2 separate regions of the Homo sapiens genome follow, and region 2 is linked to region 1. The links come from fine-mapping of genetic effects on gene expression. Tissue or cell type: putamen. Region 1 holds a variant in brackets; the other region holds the start of a gene. All regions are shown on one strand. Distances are from middle to middle.

Evidence for each region. PIP is the estimated chance that this variant, and not a neighbour inherited with it, causes the effect.
Region 2: it holds the start of MGMT, and the variant in region 1 is fine-mapped to the expression of MGMT in putamen (GTEx, PIP 0.91).

The regions. Positions count from the first base shown.
Region 1 is chr10:129,780,601-129,788,702 of GRCh38, forward strand. LOC107984281 (a long non-coding RNA gene) reads left to right here. Exons shown (of 11, transcript NR_186705.1): 2 at 4,349-4,706. Among named protein-coding and RNA genes, the nearest start is that of MIR4297, 59 kb to the right of the region's middle. The variant G/A (reference allele first, on the strand shown) is at 4,524.
Region 2 is chr10:129,464,057-129,472,158 of GRCh38, forward strand. It overlaps MGMT (O-6-methylguanine-DNA methyltransferase), which reads left to right and starts at 3,185. Exons shown (of 5, transcript NM_002412.5): 1 at 3,185-3,240. RefSeq lists silencers at 2,825-3,264, 3,285-3,484 and an enhancer at 3,051-3,973.

The sequences.
Region 1 (8,102 bases):
TACGTTAAGGAGCTCAAGATGAGATCATGCTGGATTATCCTGGTGGGTCCTAAATCCAATGACAGTTGCCCTTATAATAGACAGAAAAGGGCCGGATGCAGCAGCTCACGCCTGTGATCCTAATACTTTGGGATGCCAAGGCAGGAGGATTACTTAAAGCCAGGAGTTGAAACCAGTCTGGGCAACTTAGCAAGACCTTGTCTCTCTAAAAAATACTTTAAAGATTGGCCAGGCAGGTGGCACACACCTGTAGTCCCAACTACTCAGAAGGCTGAAGATGGAGGAGGATCACTTGAGCCCAGGTGGTCAAGGCTACGGTGAGCTATGATAACACCACTGTACCCCAGCCTGGGCGACAGAGAAAAAACCCTGCCTCCAAAAAAGAGAAAAGGGGAAGACACAGACGCAATGGAGAAAGCCATGCAAAGACAGAGGCAGAGATGGAAGTGATGGCAGCCACCAGCTGAGAAACACCTGGAGTCACCAGCAGCTGGGGGAGGGAAAGGAGACTGCTCCCCTCACGCCTTCGGAGGGAGTCTGGTCCCGCCAGCACCTGATTACAAACTCCAGAACTGTAGGAGAAGACATTTCTGCTGCTTTCATCCCCCCAGTTGGTGGAATTTGTTGCAGCAGCCCCAGGAGCTCCTGCAGCCACCTCACCTGCAGAACAGGGATGGCAGCGGCCGCCCTCACGAGGCCATACCCAGGTTCCAGTGAAGGCGACCTGGCTTCCTGGCATGTGCAGAGTGCTCAGATTGTGGTGGCGGCTCCTTGGCTTCCTGGCATGTGCAGAGTGCTCAGATTGTGGTGGCGGCTTCAGGTTAGATTTTTGCATCAGACAAGCCCAGGTTCCAGTCCCTAATTCCTAGCTGTGGGACCCTCAGGGATGTATTTGCTCTCAGAAGCCACAGCTGCCTCACCTGAGGAAAAGCAGGCACGTGTCCACCCTGCAGGTCTTCTTTGGCATTTAATGGAAAGTTCTTTCCGTTGCCCATGCAACGTGCCTGTCATTTTGTATGACGGGGTAATGCCCAGACCACTGACTTCAGTACCCTAGGCCGTCCCTGAAGGGTGGGGAATTTATGCAGCGTCTTTTCTGGATGGAAAGCTGTTGAACATGGAGGTTCGTGGGATTGTGATGTGCACCTGGCATGGGTGTGTAACATCACAACTGGATCTTTGACGAACCTATAACTGGGGTTGCAGCTTAAGGTGGCCACCCTGCGAGACTGTGCCCTATGTCAGGGACACTCAGAAGGGCCTCTCTGACAGCAAATGCCAGGGGCATTTATGAGCCACATTTTTAAAAGCAGCAACAAATAAGGATTCCCAAAGCCCATGCCCCCCACTGGCTAGGCCTGCCTCTGATGTCCACGACAACATTCACAGCTAAGCTTGGTCACTGGGGACATGTATTTGCTCAAAAACAGCAAGGTACATTTTTAATACTAATGGCATCAAAATGAATCCTAAAGCCACTGTAAATAAAGCATTGTAGGGCCAATGCCACAACAGACATAAGTAGATCAATGGAGCCAACTGGCCCGTCCAGAAACAGCCACAGGTCTGTGGAATCTCAGGATGTCATCATATGGCATTTCAGTTCCGTGGGGAAAGGAGTCATTTAATACATGGTATCAGGACAAACTGGCCAAGCTATTTGGAAATAACGCAATTCCAGAAACCTTAGGGTTCTAAACATTTGTTAAATTGGGTTTTAACTGTTACTGTATCAGCTGAAAATAGGAGAAACATGCATCCATGTCTGCATTTGCAGGAAGTGCCTGAGAACACGGCAAGAACTCAGAAGCTGGCCGGGCACAGTGGCTCACGCCTGTAATCCGAGCACTCTGGGAGGCAAAGGTGGGCGGATCACGAGGTCAGGAGATCGAGACCATCCTGGCTAACACAGTGAAACCCCATCTCTACTAAAAAATAGAAAAAATTAGCTGGGCGTAGTGGCGGGCGCCTGTAGTCCCAGCTACTCGGGAGGATGAGGCAGGAGAATGGCGTGGACCCGGGAGGTGGAGCTTGCAGTGAGCCGAGATCGAGCCACTGCACTCCAGCACTCTAGCCTGGGTGACACAGCGAGACTCCATCTCAAAAAAAAAGAACTCAGAAGTCATAAAGAAGAAGGTTGACTTGCCTGACCTCATGAACCTGTTGGAAACAGAAGACAAATGGTACCCTAGGAGAAACCATTGGCAACATGTAAGACAGAAAGATTGTGTCCACAATATATAAAAAACTTCTACAAATCAATAAGGAAAAGGCAAACCACCCAGAAGATAGATGAGCAAGGAATATAGACAGGCACTTCGTAAAGGGAAACATACAAGCAGCAGCTGGAAGCCTCTAGAAAGAGCAGCAGAAGGACCCAGTAAGCTTGAGAGTGATCACCTGGAGTGACCTCCAGGGGACCTCCCACCTCACGAGTGATCATAGCATGACAAATTAAAGCAGGAGATAGCATTTTGTTGTGATCTGGGTGAAAAATGCAAACGACGTGTAATTCTTTGTCCACAGTGTAGAGAAGGGGCAGGCATTCACTGTTGGTAGTAATGTTGGCATGTTTTTGGAGGGTAGTGAGGCAGTATTGATTAAAATGGTAAATGCCTATGCCATTTGACCAAACAATTCCACTTTTAGGAATCTATTCTACAGAGTTATTTCCATGAGTATATAAGGCTGTAGCTACAAGGATACACATGGCACTGTTGTTTGTAACAGCAACAAATGGGGAACAGCACAAATGTCCCATGGGCATGGGGTTGGCTGGATACATCCCAGTAAATATGTCCACACAACACAGAACAATTCTGCTATTAAACGTGGTAGAGTAGCCCTCTATTTACTGACATGGGAAGGTAGTCATGACTCACTGCTGAGTGAAAAAGGCATATAAGAAAACATCAGGCTGGGTGCGGTGGCTCACGTCTGTAATCCCAGCACTTTGGGAGGCCGAGGCGGGCAGATCACAAAGTCAGGAGATCGAGACCATCCTGGCTGACACGGTGAAACCCCGTCTCTACTAAAAATACAAAAAAAAATTAGCTGGGCATGGTGGCGGGCGCCTGTAGTCTCAGCTACTTGGGAGGCTGAGGCAGGAGAATGACATGAACCTGGGAGGCAGAGCTTGCAGTGAGCCGAGATCGCACCACTGCACTCCAGCCTGGGTGACAGAGCAAGACTCTGTCTCAAAAAAAAAAAAAGAAAAGAAAACATCAGGTACGATCAGTGGTGTTTTATTAAACTAAATTTTTAAATTGTGCTTACAGACATAAAATTGTGGAAGAGAGATCATCAGATTATTTGCAGGAAGACATCTTAGTGGAAGTTGGACAGTTGGAGAGAGCTGCTTTGGTTGTGTGCCTATGTGTGAGTGAGTTGGGGAGAATTACTTTGGTGTGTGGGCCTGTGTGTGAGTGAGTTGTGCAGAGTCGCTTTGGTGTGTGGGCCTGTGTGTGAGTGAGTTGGGAAGAATTGCTTTGTGTGTCTGTGAGTGAGTGTGTCTGTGTGTGTGTTGTGTTGCTTTTCAGAGTTATTCAACTCTTATAAAAATGTCTTTATTTTCTAAGAAAGAAATAGTTGTTATCACTTTGAAAATATGATCCATGATTGTGTTTTAAAACTATATATATGGCCATGTTGTAACATTTTTTAAAAAGACCATCTGCAGAGCAAGGTGCTTCAGTGATTATCTCAGCACGAGGAAATCACTTCATTTTTTGTGTGCTTAACTGTACATTCTCAATTTTTGCCATGGAAATGCATTATGTTTGTAATCATAAAAGAACACACTTACTGGGTGAAGAGGAAGGACCCTGACACATGTACTAAGAAGACAGCATGGGCCCACGCATCTGACCACGTGACTGGTGTCACGTGCTTGACCAGCTGTTTATCAGCTTCGCCTCTCCACTTGCAGGGCAGCTGAGCACAAATACTCCAGGTGAGGTCATGCCCAGCCTGTCATCAGATAGCACATCAACATAAATGCAGTATCACTTCAGGGCTGTGAGGTCTCAGAGGGAGGGGAAAGGGTGAACTAGAAAATGAAGAGGGGCGTCCTGAAGGAGGTGGCAATCAAACTGCATCAGCTGGAGCTGGGCAGGACATAGAGGGCATCTTGAGTAAAAGAAGCAACTGGACTCCAGGGAAGAGGAGAGGAGGGCCCAGGTGCCACGGTCCCTACAAGATGAGACTTGGGGACTGGAGGGCCAGGCTGGGAGAGGGCAGACCCCTTTGCCATGAGCACAGGCAATGTGGGGCCAGTTCTTAGTGACATTTCAGATGGTGACCAGTCAGAGGACAGCAGGACGTGGTGGTCATCTACTCTCTTTCACAGGGGACACAGTGGGCCCAGCACCCCGGCCACATGTGATGGAGCCTCCAGGCCTGCCCAGCACCTACTGCCCTGGGACAGGCTCTCTTTCAAGTCAGCTCCTCTGTCCAGGAAGCATCTGAGAGGCCCTGTGGTCCTGGCCAAGGAGGCAGGCCGTAAGGAGGGCAGGCCCGAGGAC[G/A]TAGGTGTGGCAACACTCCGTGTGGAGTAGTCTCTGAGGCCAGACCTGCGGTTCCTGTTTCCTGTGCCCTGGGGACCCAGAGAAAGAAGACGGATGGGCGCTGCAGTGGGGCGGAGCAGGCCTGAGCCCAGCTCGAGGAAAGCTTGCCTTCTCGTCTAGTGTCCCCGTGTTTTACATAATTAGGTAAGTCACTTAATGTCGCTGTGTCTTGTTAGAGAAGCTACTAATCCTTAGAGCTAACAGAACTAACTAATTAGTGTAGAACACTTGGAAAATATAAGAAATTCAGATGTAGAGTGTAATGTCCCAGTCCTCCCGGCATTGATGCTCGCACAGTGTCCCTGGTAGAGCCGCGGGCCTGGCTGCATCAGGAGGGATGGGTCTTGGAGGCGGTGGCATAATTGAGACACCTGTTCTGAAGCCCCAGGGCTGCCGGCCACACACCCTGCCCTGCTTAGCCAGCTGTAGGCCACGTGGGGACAACAAAAAGGGAACTATCCAGGGGCCATCTGCCTTGCTACCCCGGCACCTTGAGGCAGGGGCAGCCAGGTCAGGGGACCATGGGCTCAGAGCCCGTCGGAGCCACAGGGAGGTGCTGACATGGCCTGAGGGCTGGAGCTTCCCCCTGGGAGTGCCTGGGCTTCCACAGACTGGTGGTGGCCGAGGTCAGGGGAGCCGGATGTGGCAAGCCCCGGGTTTGGCTCTGGACACTGCCCATGACTGGCCATGCCTCAGCAAACCTGCTTTGCCCTCCGCCTTCTCTTCTCTGAAACGGAGCTAATGACGCCGCCTCGCAGCTCCTCCAGAAGGTAAAGACGGGATTACGGGACACCTGGCACACAGCCTGGCGGATGGCACTCACTGCTGTTTTCCTCCGTGACAGAGAACCGCAGAACTTCCTTCACAGTTGGCGAGCTATTCAGAAATGATACCCGAGTCCGAGGCTCGGCCTTCACTCGCTCCAAGCTCCGGTGGCACCTGCAGCCACCTGTAGGGTGTGCCTTTTCCTCTAGTATTATTGGAAATAAGATAGACAATCAAGTGTTCACTTCCTAAGGATGTATGGAGCTGTCGGCAAATCATTAATCTCTCTTTAAACCACGGTGACAATATTTACATTTAAGATCAAGATGATGATTATCTGAAGAACTCCCCTGGAAGCTCTTCTCACAACTGGAAAAACACAGCAGCCAGTTAGCAGAGCCACGTCCCAGGCCAAAATAACTGCCTGACAGTCCACGGGGCCAGGAGTCTACAGGGTGTTGGCGTGGGGAGGCGTGCTTCCCGCAGAGGCTGGAGGGCTGCTGTTGGCAGAGTAGATGGAGCTGCTCGGGGCACAGCATTCTGGCCCAACCTTGCAGGAATGTGGTTCTGACAAACCAGCTGGAGAAAAGCATTTCTGAAAAGAACTGTTTTAAGTTATTAAAAAAAAAAAAAAAGAATTTGGGGGCCTGACACGGTGGCTCATGCCCGTAATCGCAGCACTTTGGGAGGCTGAGACAGGTGGATCATCCGAGGTCAGGAGTTTGAGACCAGCCTGGCCAACATGTTGAAACCCCATTAGTACTAAAAATACAAAACATTAGCCAGGCATGATGACATGTGCCTGTAGTCTTAGCTACTCAGAAGGCTGAGGCAGGAGAATAGTTTGAACCTGGGAGGCAGAGGTTGCAGTGAGCCCAGATCACGCTACTGAACTCCAGCTCGGGTGACTGAGTGAGACTCTGTCTCAAAGAAGAAAAAAAATGAAAACAGAATTTGTGACCAAATGGTGCAGAAAACAACTGAGTCACAACAGAAGTGAAAAGCCAGGTAGTGGGTGTGCTGGGCACGGCCTGGCCAGGCCTTGGTTCCGAGAGAGAACCCCCGTGCCGTCCAGCACTGGGGGAGGCGTCCTCTAGGAGCTGCTCATTTCAGTCTTTTGTGCTCCTCATGCTGCTGTCAAGCCTGAATGATCAGCCCAGGACTCTCAAGGGGGTGTGAACAGCTTGGCGTGGTCTGATCAGGCCACTTTCCTCGTGTTGGTCTCTACATCAGGGCACTGGCATCTTTAGCAAGTGTTTTAGGAAACAGGTAACATCATCAACAAAAGCCAACATGTCTGCTCTTGATCAAGCACCTCCACATATATTGAGACCCCTGACGCCCACAACATCCTGTTAGATACTGTATCTCCGCCATCCCAGGACAGGTAAGTGCTTTGCCCTGAATCACCTCACTTTTCACCAGGATGTCTAGACTAGGGCCTGAGTCCATCACCCCAACATCTGTGCTGATCCTGCTAGGTAATGACGCCCCTTCCTTATCGTTCTAGAGTCAAGCCTAGATCCCCTACAAATACCCATGCACACTTAGAGCTCACTCTGGTTAAATGTTCCAAGAAGGATGTTGGATGGTCACTTGGTATCATCCCATGGAGTTCAGGATACCCCCGCCCTCTGAGCAGCCATTCCTCTCCCGAGCACATTCCCCTAGAGAAGCTCTGCACGTGTGCACAGGCACCAGCTGCAGGAGTGCCATCCACAGCACAGCTGTTTATGAAAAACCGTAATCAACCCAAACATCTGTATGAAGAAAAACGAAGAAATGCAGAGTGGCATGTTCACATGATGGAATACTATGCAGCTGAGAACATGAACAATTGGAGCCATGGCATGAATGAAGCTGAGAGATTTGAAGCGTCAACCAAGTAAGCTGTAGGAGATTACATGTGGTGGAAGACTAGTTTATAAATCTCACAGACAAGCCTTAAAGAAAATGTATCTCTTGAAATAAATGTATACACACAATTATACACATATATATGATAAACCCTTTTAAAAGGCAAGGGAATGATCAATAAAAACATAAACTGTTCCCTCTGGGCCAAGGCGGAGGGCAGGCCATCAGATCAGCAGGAAGTTGATCTGGTTTTGAATTGGGTTGTGTGTGCACTGGAGTCAAACATTATTTTACAGAATATATTTCATATATATTTTACACATATTTGCTTTTTTGTTTCAGATATTTCACAAGTTTTTAAAAATGTAAGCAGGTCATGAGGCCGCTGTCCAGGACAGCAGCATGCCCGTTTCTGGTGATACTTGGTGCAGAGGGTAACTCCAGCAGCTGTGCGTGCTGACCCCTCCAGCCAGCTCTGGGCAAGGGGTTGTTTCCTCCCAGCTCAGTGGCTGAGCAGAGCTCCAGCTGGCGAAGGACCCAGGCTCTGCCAACATTGTGGACATCCCCTCCACAGGCCCTGGGGTGCCCTGTGCAGAGGCAGAGGGTGACCGGGAGCAGTGGGCAGAGCCCGGACCCTCCTATCCCGGGAGGAGCCTCAGGTCCTCTTTGGCAAAGAGCAGGATCCGGTAGCTTGAGAAGCTGTGCAGCTGCCGCTGGGTGCACCCTGTCACTCAGCAAGGCAGCTGCTCCGGAACAGGCACTGCTTCTAGAATCCACTTCCTTCTCGCAGGACCAGATGTGTCAGCAGGTGACAAGAACAAGTCCAACGCCACCTCACAAGGGCTTTGGCTTTGGGATCCCCTACCTGCAGGGCCTGGGTTTTGGAGAATAAGGCTTGGCCCCAAGAGTATTCAGATC
Region 2 (8,102 bases), 320 kb before region 1:
AAGTAGCTTGGGAAGACAGGCTTATTAAACAAATTTCTTGGGTTGCAAATCATTAGAAGCAATCGCATGTCATGTTCATTTGCTTAACCCGAAAGGTATCCATTTGGATGTTTAAAGAAACTATGCAGATTAACATTGTTCCCAGTGCCCACAAGAAAGCTGGCTGATCTTAAAGGAAATCCAGGGAGCTCCTTGAGGAAGTCGGACTGCAGTTGAGCATACCCTTTTGTGGTTTTCCCACCTCTTTTGTAAAAAGTTCTTCATAGGAATCTGTGTCTGGAGGAAAAGGGGTTGTGATTTGTTAATCTGAAGATGGGAGACCTCAAAGGAATCTCACCCAACCAGTCCTGCACTGTCATCCTATGAACAGAGAAGTCAGGTGGTTGCTCAGTGAGGGGCAGGGCTGGCACCACATCCGAGCCTCCCTGTCCTGTGTTCCTTACTCTTCAGTGGACCCGGCGACCTCCCGGCTTTGGAGCCATCCTGTGTTCCTTTAACAGTAGGACGAACACACAGGCGATGATGAGATTGTAATGGGACAAGGGGGAGAGGCGTGGGGAGCTCTTGATGAAAACTTGGGTTTTTGAAATTACCATGATGAAGGGAGGAGCTTGCACCAGCAGGTGTAAGGAGTGTGAGTTTGAGTTCTGCTCATCAGACAGCCTAAGCAGTCACATCCTTGAATCCTGGTCTTTTGCAGGCCAGTCCTTGGTCAGGTGGTGGCCTTTTTCCTCTTTCCCCTCTGCACTGAGACCCTTATTTGGCTCCTGATCCTGGAGCCCCTGACACAGTCCTTACCACTGAAGTAGCTGTGGCCCTTCACATAGTTCTTCCCACCACGCCAGCAAGGGGACTGAGTTCTTTCAGTACAGCCAGGGCCAGGTCCACACATCTCCCTGGGAAGCCAGCACTTTCTCTCGTGGACCGCCTCCCCATTCCCACAGGGCCCTCCTAAAGGGCCTTTGGATGACCACATTGGCCTTTCTTTCCTAGGGTGGGGAATTAGAGATGCTAAGACTGGCCAGTCTCTTTTTCTTAAGAGTTTAGGGATTCGTCTTAAAATATTATTCAGATAAACGTATGAGTCATGTGTTAACTGCAAAACTACTTAACAGCACACTTGTTAGAATATCAGTCGGCACTCTGATTCCATTTCGGCATTGTTTTTCCTTTGGTTCTATTAAGATCCCGGTTCTAACTGGGTCCTGGTAGTAACAGGCTGTAAGTGGCCAGGTGTATAGCATTATTTCTTAGTAGTGTGGTGTGGTGCTGGTGGTTTATTTTCCCTATGCACACATGCCCTAATATGGAAGGATAGTTTGTACACACGTAGGGTACGTTATCATGAGACTCCTTTACAGAGTATGAAACTGAGGATTAGAGAAGTCAGACGAGTTTCCCGAAGTCTTATAGAAGGCTAATGGAAAAAACCAGAGCCAAGGGCAAACATGTTTCATCTGTCCTTCCACATTAGTTTAAATGTGAATGGCTGCTTGGAACACAGTGTTGAGAAGGATTCCGAGGCTGTGTCCAGGTTCAGTGGGGAAAAAGTGCCTTGATTTGACCATTATATCGTGTACTCAGGGCCTAGTTTATTTCCCACAAGCAGCTATTTAAAACATGTCTCATCCAAGGCAGGGTCGGGGTGGGGAACCTCAGAGGATCAATGATGCAGCCTGTATTGTCACCAGGGCTCATCCCAAAGCAAATCCTGCTGAAGTTCTCCTCTGAACAACCCTTATCACTCATGCTAATATGTTGGATCCTGCAAGTCACAAATACGAAGGTATGAGCATTGGCCGAATCCCAACAGGGAAACTTCACCGGGAAGGTGAAGACCCCTTTCCATTAAGATAACAAACAGAACCTAGAAGGCCCGTAGCATGGTGGCTTAGAACATGTGGGCCTTGGATGGGATCCTGCCAAGGGGTGTGTGACCTCTCCGAAGCCTCCAGGGATGATACTACTCCCTGGGGTGCTTATGCCAACCACGTTAGAGACAATGGTTTCTGTACCCATTGCCTGGGGCTGCCATAATAAAGTGCCACACACTGAGTGGCTTAAAACAACAGAAACCTATTGTCTCACACTTCCGGGGGCCAGAAGTTTGAAACCCAGGTGTGTTAGGATCCTGCTCCCTCTGAAGGCTCCAGGGAAGAGTGTCCTCTGCTCCCTCCGAAGGCTCCAGGGAAGGGTCTGTCCTCTTAGGCTTCTGGTGGCTTGCAGGTGCAGCCCTCCAATCCTCCTCCCCAAGCGGCCTTCTGCCTATAAGGACACGAGTCATACTGGATGAGGGGCCCACTAATTGATGGCTTCTGTAAAGTCCCCATCTCCAAATAAGGTCACATTGTGAGGTACTGGGAGTTAGGACTCCAACATAGCTTCTCTGGTGGACACAATTCAACTCCTAATAACGTCCACACAACCCCAAGCAGGGCCTGGCACCCTGTGTGCTCTCTGGAGAGCGGCTGAGTCAGGCTCTGGCAGTGTCTAGGCCATCGGTGACTGCAGCCCCTGGACGGCATCGCCCACCACAGGCCCTGGAGGCTGCCCCCACGGCCCCCTGACAGGGTCTCTGCTGGTCTGGGGGTCCCTGACTAGGGGAGCGGCACCAGGAGGGGAGAGACTCGCGCTCCGGGCTCAGCGTAGCCGCCCCGAGCAGGACCGGGATTCTCACTAAGCGGGCGCCGTCCTACGACCCCCGCGCGCTTTCAGGACCACTCGGGCACGTGGCAGGTCGCTTGCACGCCCGCGGACTATCCCTGTGACAGGAAAAGGTACGGGCCATTTGGCAAACTAAGGCACAGAGCCTCAGGCGGAAGCTGGGAAGGCGCCGCCCGGCTTGTACCGGCCGAAGGGCCATCCGGGTCAGGCGCACAGGGCAGCGGCGCTGCCGGAGGACCAGGGCCGGCGTGCCGGCGTCCAGCGAGGATGCGCAGACTGCCTCAGGCCCGGCGCCGCCGCACAGGGCATGCGCCGACCCGGTCGGGCGGGAACACCCCGCCCCTCCCGGGCTCCGCCCCAGCTCCGCCCCCGCGCGCCCCGGCCCCGCCCCCGCGCGCTCTCTTGCTTTTCTCAGGTCCTCGGCTCCGCCCCGCTCTAGACCCCGCCCCACGCCGCCATCCCCGTGCCCCTCGGCCCCGCCCCCGCGCCCCGGATATGCTGGGACAGCCCGCGCCCCTAGAACGCTTTGCGTCCCGACGCCCGCAGGTCCTCGCGGTGCGCACCGTTTGCGACTTGGTGAGTGTCTGGGTCGCCTCGCTCCCGGAAGAGTGCGGAGCTCTCCCTCGGGACGGTGGCAGCCTCGAGTGGTCCTGCAGGCGCCCTCACTTCGCCGTCGGGTGTGGGGCCGCCCTGACCCCCACCCATCCCGGGCGAGCTCCAGGTGCGCCCCAAGTGCCTCCCAGGTGTTGCCCAGCCTTTCCCCGGGCCTGGGGTTCCTGGACTAGGCTGCGCTGCAGTGACTGTGGACTGGCGTGTGGCGGGGGTCGTGGCAGCCCCTGCCTTACCTCTAGGTGCCAGCCCCAGGCCCGGGCCCCGGGTTCTTCCTACCCTTCCATGCTGCCAGCTTTCCCTCCGCCAGCTGCTCCAGGAAGCTTCCAGAAGCCCCTGCGCGGGCCTTGGCTTGCAGCAACCCTTTAGCATACTTAGGCAGAGTCCCATATTTCCTTCCTGCTGGAGGCCAAGTTCTAGGGGCCTTCTGGTTACTATGGCTGGTGTTTGTGTACATCATACCCTAACTGTATTCATCAACACTTAGAGTAAGCAAGGCTCGCTGGAGAGCCACACACACTGGGCACCGTAATGTCGGTTATAACACCGCAGAGGAGTTCTGAACTATGTATTTCGCACTCCTGGGTTCATCATCTCCTGAAATCTCAGGGTGGTGTTTGCTCTCAGTTGCTTCAGCTGAGTAGCTGGCTTTCTGTCCTGGAAAGCAGACTTTGTACATGTGTGTGCAACCTATGCCTGCTGAGATCATCATCAGACAGGGAAGCGGCTTGGTCCAGAGAGCTGTTCTCAGTAGAATGTTAAGCACAGAGAGCTGAGAATTAGACTGGTTATTTACATAGACATCCAAATAGAAACCTATAGAGTATCTGTTAAGTCAGGCTCTCCCGTCATCTCCCCCATCCCTGGGCAGGTGTCTAGGAGATGGTTTTGTTATTTTCAGGGCCCTCTCAATGGCTAAAACACTCTGGGAGATGAACAAGATTTTAAAAACCCAAAGCTTAGCGCACCTGGTGGGTGGGGGTGTGAAAACTTTGAAGGAAACCGCGTCAAGAGCCTGGCTGATTGTTAATATCACGTTAACTCAGAGGGCCAGGATACTTGCCCAGACCCGGAGTCTGCCTGCAAGTAGCAGAGGAGAGCTGGCCTTGCTCTGCCGCGTGTCTTTCTTCCTGGGCCCTCTGTCTCGGGTTGGAATTTGAATAGTGGAGTAGTGTCTGCCACAGTCAGGGGCCTGGATGAAGTAGACCACCAGTACGGAGCTATACTCAGGTACTTTTCAATGTATATATCTTCATTAAAAAAAAAAAATCTGGGCCAGGCACAGTGGGTCACGCCTGTAATCTCAGCACTTTGGGAGGCCGAGGTGGGTGGATCACCTGAAGTCAGGAGTTTGAGACCAGCCTGGCCAACATGGTGAAACCCAGTTTCTACTAAAAACACAAAAATTATCCAGGCGTGGTGGTGCATGCTGGTAATCCCAGTTACTTGGGAGACTGAGGCAGGAGAATTGCTTGAACCTGGGAGGCGGAGGTTGCAGTGAGCCGAGATTGCGCCATTGCACTCCAACCTGGGCGACGAGAGTGAAACTGTCCTGAAGGGGAAACAAAAAAATCTGTATCAAAATAAGGATTTAACTAATAGTATTAGGCACTACTTTAAAAAGGCTTTGCTGTTAGTAAGGTTGAAAGAAATAGAGCCCTAGGTATACATTGGGTAGCACCTTGTTCAGCTGCTCAGATTCTTGAACCTTGTTGAGGTCTTACTTTGATATCACCTGGGCCTTACTTTTCGTTGTTTGGGTTTCCTCCCCAGGTGTCTCAATCAGGGCCTCCTCTGTCCTTTTGCAGGGAAGAAGGGGGTAGGAAGGGCCTGAAAAAGAACTTGCCTTCCCCATTGCCCCCTCAGAGTTTGTTCCTCTCCAGTCCTCTTCCCACCCTTTCTTAGGACACCAAAACCCTGACTCTTTCAGTATTTTATAATAAAATAAAGTTACTAAATTGTCTGTTCTGTTTTGCAGAGGACACACATTTAGGAGCCAGTGATTCAGACCTTCCATTTTTCTTTTTGGTGCTAATGCTCTTTTCAGTATATTCTCTTTGATAGAAAAAAAATGGAGGCAAAACTGAATTTTCTGCATTATCTTTTCCTTTAGCATTATTCTTGTTTCTGCACTTCATTCTGACCCCCTTCCCCAGCATAAAGTTCCATGTCCAGATCCACTTGCCCTGAGATTTTTGACTTCCGTTTGGGACTCTAGTCCCTCCAGGGGACACATTGAGCCTCCCAGACCCTGCAGGGCCCTGTGCTCATTCGGCTCTTGGGCTGTTGCTACGGTCCTTCCTGACCCTCTGTTTCCTGGGACAAGTAGTTTTTAATGCAGCTACTTTCTGAAAGAGCTGGGGTCTTACCGCAGAATATTATTTTATTATTTTTAGAGACAAGGTCTTGGTCTTTCGCCCAGGCTGGAGTGCAGTGGTGAGATCATAGCTCCCTGCAGCCTCAAGCTCCTGGGCTCAAGCGAACCTCCTGCTTTGACCTCCCAAGTACCAGGGACTACAGGTGTGCGCCACCATACCTGGCTAATTGTTGTTGTTGTTGTTTTTAGAGGCCAGGGTCTCCGTATGTTGCCTAGGGTGGTCTCGAACTCCTGGACTCAAGTGATCTTCCCTCCTAGGCCTCCCAAAGTGCTGGAATTATAGGCATGAGCCACCATGCCTGGCCTCGCAGGATATTATTTAAACGAAACCTGAAGGATTTAAAATCAGAGAAGACACATAAACCATCACCTGACTGTGGGGTGAGAGTGGTCTTTATATAGACACTCATGATGCACAAGCCAGCCCTTCGCCCCACTCTTGTTTTGAAGTGAAAGGATTTATATGGGAGGGAGGAGGTTTGAGCTGTGCAGGAGGGTCCTTGGTTGGCATGAGGATTTTGTGAACCTACGCTGTTAGCTCTGCAGGCCTGTCTTGGACATAGGTAAGTAGAAGTTGGAGACCTTGTGTTGTGGACCAAATGTTGCAAGATGTGTGTTCTGTGGCTTTTCATTAACTGCTGCATATCTGCTGGTTGGTGGACATAGTCTAGTTTTCTTTTGACTTAAAAAAATTAACAGTACAGCTTATATCGGAGGGCTGCATAGTTTGGGGGAAACTAATGAATATAGTATGGAATGTAATGAATGACTGACTTCTTCATAGAGCTATTGAAGTGATTTATGAAGAGGAAGAAATCATTTTTGTGACTTTGTTGATCTTTGAAGTATTAGAGTGGCTTTGGCAGGTGTGGATCACCCGGAAAGGAATCAAACACTGAGTCCTGCCAAGGTGCTCGGTCCCGGCAGCAAAGCCAGTCCTCAGCAGCCTGCGCTCCCGAAGCTCCTCCAGCTAAGTAACTGAATAGGCCGCCCTGGGAGCTGCCCATGCGGATGCTCTGAATGGTGAAACTTGGTTTTGACACCACAAGTTGTTTTCAGTTAAATCAGTGGCTCAGCAGCAGAGCAGGGTTCTCCAAGGAGGCCTCGTGTCCCCTTCACCCCACCTGGAGGTAGCTGTTCTAAAACCAGTAAAAAATTCTACAAAAACATTTTCTTAGGGTTGTTAAATTAGTCATAGTGTGTGTAACCATGAAAGGAATGGTGAGAGTGCAATAAATGCCTGGTGTGTTCACTCTCCTACTCCTAAAAGTTTCTTGGTAGAATAATTTCCTACCTGTGATGCTTGCGAAGTCAGCAGAGGCTCCCACCCAGCCCTGCCGCCCATTCCCAGAAGTCTGGGCTGGGGGACACCGAATGGATAGTCCACCAGCGGCGTGGCTTGTGAAAGGAGGTACTTGTTAAATCTATGTGTTTTTATTATAGACATCGTTCTGCCAGTCGCAATAATGTGTTTATGGACATTTTTCTGCAAGCACAGCGCGGGTGGCAGTTTTTACTGACAAATTGAGTCATATGCATAGAGGTTTAGAAAGCGCTTGCCTTATTGACGGATCAGGCAATTCTGGCACGGGATGTTCAGAGATATTTAGGTGGGTGAAGAGAGTGAATGAATCTCAGGGCAGAGAAGGAGATGGGGCATTATATGTTGAAATGCAATAAATAATCGCTAGTTATTTATCATTTGTTTTTAAACTTTTAGCTACATTGTACTTCCCAGTCAAGAGGACTCCGGTGGGCAGCCGGGGATATCATGTTCAGGTGTCTCTCCTGCTTGTGTGGGGTAAGAGCCACTACTGGAATGCGATTCCAGCAAGGCCTGACGAGTCACAGCCCCTTGAACCTGTTGCTCTCCGTAAAGTGGGATCTTCACAGGCAACAGTGGAGGAGCGTTTGAGGGTGACCTGGGCCCTCTGCATCAGAATTACTGTGGGTGCTGGCTAGAGAGGTCTCTCGATTGCAGGGCCCCATGGGAGACCTACAGGACCAGAACCTGGGGATGCCAGGGGATTCTGGCAGACCCTAATGCTTGAGCACCTCTAGGGAAGGCCTTAGGATCCTCTGGGAAGTAGCACTCTCCAGCCCAGGCAAGATCCGAGTCCCCCTTCCAGAAGTATCCATCGGCAGTTGGCATTGCTGCAGGTTTTCTGTGCATATGGGTCTGAGTACGGTTTTGTAACTCCTGAGAGACGTGAATCTCTTCAAATTGCAAACCCAACATGTTATTATTGCTTTTGAGTTTTCAGTTTTGTGGTTATGACAAGATGCAGATGTTACCAAAACTTTGGCGTCAGTTTTACAAACACACGCGAAGCACGGGCAACCCGTATCATATTTCACCCCTTCTTTCCTTTTGAGAGGGTTGTCTTGTTTTTAATCCCCCTCTGGGTCAAGGCATTTTCCTGGTCTCAGGTGAGGGTGCACTTTCAGAGGC